Linked DNA regions of Homo sapiens: region 1 is linked to region 2. The links come from fine-mapping of genetic effects on gene expression. A gene starts in region 2. The other region holds a variant in brackets. All regions are shown on one strand. Distances are from middle to middle.

Evidence for each region.
Region 1: its variant is fine-mapped to the expression of FANCG in whole blood (TOPMed, PIP above 0.99).

What each region holds. Positions count from the first base shown.
Region 1 is chr9:34,972,308-34,976,696 of GRCh38, reverse strand. It overlaps PHF24 (PHD finger protein 24), which reads right to left. Exons shown (of 8, transcript NM_015297.3): 3 at 4,166-4,351; 4 at 467-545; 5 at 1-162. Among named protein-coding and RNA genes, the nearest start is that of DNAJB5-DT, 15 kb to the left of the region's middle. The variant A/G (reference allele first, on the strand shown) is at 1,720.
Region 2 is chr9:35,077,642-35,081,956 of GRCh38, reverse strand. FANCG (FA complementation group G) reads left to right here and starts at 2,015. Exons shown (of 14, transcript NM_004629.2): 1 at 2,015-2,516; 2 at 2,716-2,806; 3 at 3,221-3,352; 4 at 3,614-3,816. The coding sequence starts at 2,433. RefSeq lists enhancers at 563-1,169, 2,386-2,993 and a silencer at 2,145-2,310.

The DNA of each region.
Region 1 (4,389 bases), 110 kb after region 2:
AGAAGTCAGGCCACTCTATGTGGCCTCGATGTTCAGGGTCCAGGGCAGCAAACTGGCGGGCCGCCTGCTCTTCTTGCTCCTCACTCAGGGCCCTGTCACGGTCCCCCCGCTTGGCTGCTTGGTGGCGGTAACGCAGAAAGTCCTCCAGTGTCAGGGAGCAATCTGTGGGAGGCACCCCGTGCTAGCCATGCCCATCCTTCCTCAGCCTCAGGGCACCTCCATCACCTCCAGGGCACCCTCGGGGCCCCCAAACCCACAGCTCTTGCTAAGTCTCTGCCTCCCATGGCCAGGGTCACCCAGGCTGTGACAGGGATAGGTGACTCTGCTGGCCAACAACTCAGGAACAAGGACTCATTTACCCTCTACCCACTAAATATGGAACACTCCTTTCATGGTTCATTCTAGAAAGCCTGAAGGAGAAATCTGCCCGGCCCCTCTCCATCCATGCAGCACCACCCAACCTTACCAGGGATGACTTTACACCGCTGAAAGGTCTCCGTGAGGCTATACATTTCCTCCTCAGTAAGCAGCAAGTTGATGTTGTCCTGAAAATAAGGAAGAGCTGAGTCGGTGGCCATACAGGCCAGTAAGAAAGGCCAGGGTCAAGGGGGCTAGAAATAGAATTTCAACTGGAAAGCAGTTCCAAGATCATCTAATCCCAGCCTCCTATTCACAATCAATGAGATTGAGGCCCCAGAGAGGAGAAAGGACTTGGCCAGAGTTGTCTTTACTCTGGGGCAGAATCTTCCCCAAGAACCCAGATATCCTGACTCCAGCACTGAGTCCCTTTACTAAAACAGTGGTTTTCTCCTCTGAGCTAACCTAGGGATTTCTTGGAAGTGCCTTAGGAAGCTGCTGCAGGGAATAAGGGGGCTAGTGAGTAGGCAGGTTGTGAATCCCTATCTCCATCAAGCAGAGCGGCTCCATCTCCATCCCTTTTATCTACTTGGCTTCTGTGTTAGGCTGTGCTAAAAATGTATTTTAGTTAAAAAAAAAAAAAGTTTAATCCTAGCTCTGCTCCAAGTGGGTTGTATCACTTTAAATAACCCCAGAATGGTTTTAAAAGATGCCATTATTACAAGGCTCCTAAAGCCAAATGAGTTTTTTTGTAGTGCCACAGAAGTTTTAATTCCAAAGGAGCACCAATATCTTATTGTGTTGACGTTACCATACAGTCTTTAAACTATCAAAGATCCTTTCTAGTACAAGGTCATTTTCTTCCTCTGAGATACCCGCAAAGTACAAGAGCAGATATTTCATGAGTATTCATACGTGGATTTCATAAAGAACTCAAACCATTCTTTTTCTTCCATAACACTTTTTAAAAACTAATATATAATAGTTGTATTTTTCTTTCAAACCATACTTTCAATAAACACCTACTGAGCACCTAGTAAACACTGGGCGCCACAGTGGTGTGTAACACTGTGAGATGTTCAGTGTGGCTGAGGTTTGGAGTACATGTGAGTGTGTGTGTGAGGGAAGGAGGGGGCCTACTATGAAGTACCTCCAATACCCTTTATCGAGCCCCTCAAATTAGGCCTTTATTCTGAGGGCAAAAGGGAGCCACCAAAGGGTTTTCAAGTGGGGAGTGCCGTGGTCAGATCTCTGGCTGCTGTGTGGAAGATGGATTAGAGCGGCAGAGTCTGGAGGTGTGGAGAGCAGTTGGGGGCTGCCGCAACAGTCCAGGCAAGAAATGATGAGCAGCTAAACTGAGAC[A/G]TGAGAATGAAGAAGGGAAGAGAGATATTAGAGGCAGCATCATCAGGACCTGATGACTCACTGGATGTGAGGCATGAGGGAGAGATTGAACTGGAATTGGTAACTGGGGCATGGTATTACTATTCACAGAGATAAGGAGTGGAGGAAGAGCAGGTTTGGGGGCAAAGATGAGTTCATTTTGGGGCATGATGAGTGTGAAGTACTTGTGAGATATCAAGGTGGATAAGTGCAAGAGACAGGAAATTTAGGTCTGGACACACAGAAATAGGAGTCATTAGTGTTTAGATGGTGGCTGTAGATGAAGTCACCAAAGAGGGCGCAGTGAGAAAAGAAGAGTATTAAACAACAGAACCCTGAGAAACAGGACTGAGACAAGAAACTAACAAAGGGCATTGAGAAAGAATGGTCAGAGACTAAGGCTGGAAGAGCATCAGTAGAGAAGAAGGTACTGGATACCAAGCAAAGACAGCTGCAGAATGTGGGAGGTAATGTTAACGGTGGTTACACCACTGAGGTGGGATTTTATTGACTTTCTATTTTCTCTCATTTCCATATCTTATGCAATAATTCTCATAAAAATACTTAAATCCTAAAGAAAAGAGAGAGGAATAAAGAAGTAATAAATACTTCAGAGAGATCAAGTAAGAAGATGCCTCAGAAAAGGTCAGTGGACTTGACAATTAGGAGGTGACTGGTGACCTTAGGAAGCAACAGTTCTGCAGAATGATGGATGCAGATGTCAGATTATATGATAGGTGGTTGAAAAACCATAGGAGATGGTGAAATTCTTTTAAGAAGTTTGGCTGTGGGGCCAGGTGCAATGGCTTGTGCCTGTAGTCCCAGCTACTGAGGAAGCTGAGGCAGGAGGATTGCTTAGGTCTAGGAGTTCAAGGCTGCAGTGCTACGATCGCACCACTGCACTTCAGCCAGGTGACACAGTGAGACCCTGTCTCATAAAAAGAAAAAAAAGAAGAAGAAGATTTGTTGGCTGTGAAGGGAAGGAAAGAAAGGAGAGGTACTTGGAAGGAGGCTCTGTAAAAAGCCCAGTGGAGCATGGTGGCAATGATGGTAGGACTGTGTCAGGAAGCTGGGGAGGGAGCAGTGTGTTCCTGGGGGTTAGGGAGGTGACCCCTTCACCCCAGTCCTATAGCAGCAGCACACCGCAAAGCAGAGTGGCCGAGATGAAAGGATGGCATTTGGAAGGGGTGACAGGCACTAGAGAAGGTCGCCGGTACAGCAGGGTCTGCTGCAGTGTACTCCATGGGGACAGGTGTTTCAGTGGCTGAAAATAGCTGTTCCATAACAAGCCATAGAGGAAGAGTTATTTGTTAGAAAGTGGCACATCTCTGCTTTCGTCTAAGCAGCAGGAAGAAGGGGGGATCAGCAGGTGCTCCTCACTCTGAAATCAATAAACAATGACGATATCTGCAGGACAACAGATCAATAAGGCAAGACTTGAACTCTATTCAGGTGTAGTGAGAAATGGATATAAATCTGGCTTTCAATGGAAACCTTAGACTCTGTCCTTCATTAAAAGTTAGAAGGCATTTATATATAATTTGCGAAGTTCTGAATCAATAGAGCTTTGTCATTTAATTCACATAATAACCACTTCAAAGAGGAAGAGCAAATGCTTATGAGTCAGGTGGCAGGCTGAGTGAGGATCTCAGGCCTAGGAAGTTTTCCTGTGATAGAATCTACCCCTACTGGAAGCAAGCTGGTTAGGATCTCAGGTTAGTTTTCATATGGATACAATGAATGACAACTATAGACTATTAGAGAAAGAACTGCTCCAAGCAGAATTACTTTTGAGTAATTAGGCCCCAGTCAATCTCCTAGCTCAGAGGTTCTCTACCGGGGGTGATTTTGCTACCTTCACATTGAGATGTATGCTACCGGCATCTAGGGGATTAAGGCCAGGGTGCCGCTAAACATCCTACAATGCACTTGGCCCCTCAAACAAGTAACTAGCCAGCCTAAAATGTACTGAGGTTGAGAAACCCCATCCTAGCTCTAGGTCTCTTGTATGTACCATTGGAAAAATCTTTTTTTTTTTTTTTTTTTCGAGACAGAGTCTCGCTCTGTCGCCAGGCTGGAGTGCAGTGGCGCGATTTCGGCTCGCTGCAACCTCCGCCTCCTGGGTTTAAGTGATTCTCCTACCTCAGCCTCCCGAGTAGCTGGGACTACAGGCGCGTGCCACCACGCCCAGCTAATTTTTGTATTTTTAGTAGAGATGGGGTTTCACCATGTTGGCCAGGATGGTCTCAATCTCTTGACCTCGTGATCTTCCGGCACTGGCCTCCCAAAGTGCTGGGATTACAGGCATGAGCCACCGCGCCCAGCCCATTGGAAAATTCTTTAGGTCACTGCCTAAAATCAAGTGTTCTAAGACCGGGCCTCCAGGAAAAGTGCCAAGTCCTCTGCTGTCCCTGCAGTCCAGACTTACACAGTAGTGGCAGCTCCAGCCTGTTTCTGTGTGGGCCATCTCCGTCACCTCCGCTGCACTGTCTCCTTGGATGTAGCCCATGCGGCGCAGGCAGCCATCATGGAAAACCCTGGTGCAGACCCTGCACGGGAAGAGGCTCTCAGCTGTCCAGACCTCACAAACATCACACATCTCATCGTTGACAACCTGCAGAAAGATGGCAGGAGGAAACAGGGATGTGTAAA
Region 2 (4,315 bases):
AATAGCTAATAATGCCGAGCATCTTTTTATGTGTTTCTTAGCCATTAGTAGATCTTTTTTGGTAAAATGTCTTTTTTTTTTTTTTTGGTCCATCTTAAAATTGTTTTTTGTTTTGTTTTGAGACAGGGTCTCACTTTGTTGCCCACGCTGGAGTGCAGTGGCTCAATCATGGCTCACTGCAGCTTCGACATCCCTGAGCTCAGGTGATCCTCCCACCTAAGTTTCCCGAGTAGATGGGACTACAGGTGTGTGCCACCATGCCCAGCTAATTTTTGTATTTTTTTTGTAGAGGTGGGGTTTTGCTATGTTGCCCAGGCAGGTCTTAAACTTCTGAGGCTCAAATGATCCTCCCACCTCAGCCTCCCAAAGTGCTGGGATAACAGGCATGAACCACCACACCCAGCTAAGATTGTTTTTAAAAATCTTTTTCTTGAGTTTTGGGAGTTTTTATGTGTTAGGGATACCAGTCCCTTATGAGGTATATAATTAGCAAGTAGTTTCTCCCACTCTGTGACTGTGACCTTTCTTTTTTTGAGGCAGGGTCTCACTCTGTTACTCAGGCTGGAGGGCAGTGGTGTGATCATGGCTCACTGCAACCTGGAACTCCTAGGCTCAAGGGCTCCTCCCACCTCAGCCTCCCAAGTAGCTGGGTCTACAGGTGTGTTATTGTGCCAGGGTTAATGTTTTAAATTTTTTGTAGAGATAATGTCTCTACAAAAGACACCATCTTTGTTGCCTAGGCTGGTCTTGAACTCCTGGCTTCAGGGAATCCTCCAGCCTCAGCCTCCCAAAGTGCTGGGATTACAGCATGAGCCACATCCAGCCTATGATTTTTCTTCTTTTCTTTTCTTTTCTTTTCTTTTTTTTTTGAGATGGAGTCTCGCTGTTGCGCAGGCTGGAGTGCAGTGGGGCGATCTCGGCTCACTGCAGGCTCTGGCCCGCGGGGTTCACGCCTTTCTCCTGCCTCAGCCTCCCGAGTAGCTGGGACTACAGGCGCCCGCCACATCGCCCGGCTAATTTTTTGTATTTTTAGTAGAGACGGGGTTTCACCGTGTTAGCCATGATGGTCTCGATCTCCTGACCTCGTGATCCGCCCGCCTCGGTCTCCCAAAGTGCTGGGATCACAGGCGTGAGCCACGGCGCCCGGCCCCAGCGTATGACTTCTTAATGATGTCTTTGTAGTACAAGAGTTTTTAATTTTAATAAAGTTAACTTTTTTTTAAATTGTACAAGCTTTTAGTGCTGTGTCTAACAACTTGTTGCCAAACCCAAGGTCATAAAGCTGTTCTCTTACGTTTTCTTTTTTTTTTTTTTTTGAGACGGAGTCTCACTCTGTCACCCAGGCTGGAGTGCAATGGCACGATGTCGGCTCACTGCAACCTCCGCCACCCGGGTTCAAGCGATTCTTCCGCCTCAGCCTCCGGGGTAGCTGGGATTACAGGCGCACGACACCACGCCCTGCTAATTTTTGTATTTTTGTAGAGAAGGTTTCACCATGTTAGTTAGGCTGCTTTACGTTTTCTTTTAGAAGTTTTATATTTTTGGCTCTTATATTTAGTTTGTGATCCATTGAGTTGATTTTATGTACGTATGTATGGTCGCGTTCTTTTCTTTCCTGTCTTTTTTTTTTTTTTTTTTTGCATATGGATATTCAATTCTCCTAGCTCCATTTAATTTGAAATGATTGGGCAGGTACTTTTGAGCAGTGCAAGTACAGAGCGGCACTGCCAGCAGACTACACGCGGTAGAAAGCCGACCTTGGTGAGCGTGTTGGTGCTCGACAGTGAGCAGAGAAAGGATGGACGATTACGGAGCGCCCTCGTCTCCAGTTACCGCTTTCTGGAAACACCATCCGCCGGGGCGGAGCTGTTCCGCCCCGGTGCGGTACTACGACTCCCAGCATGCACCTCGCAGTCGGCCCTCGGTGGAAGCGGGAACCCAGGAGGACCTGGGGGTGTGGCAGCGAGGAAGGGCCGAGCCACGGACTGTGGGGCCGAAACTCGCTCCCGCCCACCCTTTCTCGAGGCTGTGGCCTCCGCGAGAGCCGAGCGGGCCGCACCGCCGGCCGTGCGACTGCCCCAGTCAGACACGACCCCGGCTTCTAGCCCGCCTAAGCCTGTTTGGGGTTGCTGACTCGTTTCCTCCCCGAGTTTCCCGCGGGAACTAACTCTTCAAGAGGACCAACCGCAGCCCAGAGCTTCGCAGACCCGGCCAACCAGAGGCGAGGTTGAGAGCCCGGCGGGCCGCGGGGAGAGAGCGTCCCATCTGTCCTGGAAAGCCTGGGCGGGTGGATTGGGACCCCGAGAGAAGCAGGGGAGCTCGGCGGGGTGCAGAAGTGCCCAGGCCCCTCCCCGCTGGGGTTGGGAGCTTGGGCAGGCCAGCTTCACCCTTCCTAAGTCCGCTTCTGGTCTCCGGGCCCAGCCTCGGCCACCATGTCCCGCCAGACCACCTCTGTGGGCTCCAGCTGCCTGGACCTGTGGAGGGAAAAGAATGACCGGCTCGTTCGACAGGCCAAGGTAACACGGTTGCTGGCACCCTCGGTTTGCAGCCTCAAGATCCCTGAAAGCGGGTTTGCAGTGGATTTACCCCAACCGATGGGGAGGGACTGAGCTTGACCAAAGAGCCAGAAATGACTGGAGAATGCATCCCTTGCCACTGCTGCAAGGGGAGAAAAAAGGATTGATCCTCAGTGACAACCCCTCCCTCATGTGGCAGGTGGCTCAGAACTCCGGTCTGACTCTGAGGCGACAGCAGTTGGCTCAGGATGCACTGGAAGGGCTCAGAGGGCTCCTCCATAGTCTGCAAGGTAGGCGGGTCCTCCCCAGGATGGTCAGTTCCCCTCTTCCATAGCCAGAGAAACATCCGCTCCTGCGTTTTTGGGATCGATATAATTACTCGGGGCAGGGAGTCCTGTTTAAGGCACAGAGGAGACTGGAGTGGAATCATCTTTGTACAGGCAAATCCCTCTCTTCCTTACACACTCACAGAGTGGCATTTGAAAAATGGTTTCCAAGATGGTCTGATCTGGATAACTTTTTTGCCCTTTCCAGACTCTCTGTCCAAAGGTTGGGTTCTTTTTTTAAATCCTTAGCTAATTGGCTGGAGGGTGGGTTCTTTATTGTAGCTGTTTTGGTTGGAGTGGGGTGATCTCTGAGTTGGGATTTTATTTGGAGGATCTTCCATGGGGGAGCAGTCTGTAAGACCAACATTGTTGCTCCAGGGCTCCCTGCAGCTGTTCCTGTTCTTCCCTTGGAGCTGACTGTCACCTGCAACTTCATTATCCTGAGGGCAAGCTTGGCCCAGGGTTTCACAGAGGATCAGGCCCAGGATATCCAGCGGAGCCTAGAGAGAGGTGAGGGCCAGAGATTGTCCCTGATTCCCCTGCCATCTTCAGTCTGGGTTTAAGTTATTGCAGGGAGATGGGAGGATAAACAACATCTGTCACCTCCATGGAGAGAGGTGCCCTTCTCTGTGCTCTTCAGACCAGGTTGAGGTATTATTATTGTGACCTTTGGGGTCCTGCAGGAGAGGAAAGCCAGAGTGTGTGGGGAGATGGAGGATGAGGTGCTACTTCAGCTGTGTGTGTGTCTATGTGTGTGTGTATACTCTACAGTGCTGGAGACACAGGAGCAGCAGGGGCCCAGGTTGGAACAGGGGCTCAGGGAGCTGTGGGACTCTGTCCTTCGTGCTTCCTGCCTTCTGCCGGAGCTGCTGTCTGCCCTGCACCGCCTGGTTGGCCTGCAGGCTGCCCTCTGGTTGAGTGCTGACCGTCTTGGGGACCTGGCCTTGTTACTAGAGACCCTGAATGGCAGCCAGGTAATAGGGAAAGTGACCTGAAGCTGAGGGTCTCCTCCTTCCTTCCTCCTCCTTTCTCTCCAGCTGCAGTAGCATCATCATGTACTGGACAGGCGGCTGGGTTGGTGGTCGGAAAACCTGGATTCTCTCTGGGACTCTTGGGTGACCTTGCCCTGGTTGGTCTCTCATTGTGGGGATTCTCTTAGGAGTGTTTTTTAAAAATTGGACAGGCATGGTGGCTCATACCTGTAATCTCAGCACTTTGGGAGGCTGAGGTAGGAGGATCACTTGAACCCAAGAGGTGGAGGCAACAGTGAGTTGTGAGCTATGATCACGCCACTGCACTCCAGCCCTGCAGCCTGGGTGACAGAGGGAGACCCTGTCTCAAAAAAAAAAAAAATTTTTTTTTGGATAGGGATAGGGCTCTTGTGATCTTGCTCAAGTCAGCTCTCAGCCTTAGTCTCCTTATTAGTAACTCAAATATGGTCCTTGCCCTGAGTGAGGAGGCACGCTGGAATAG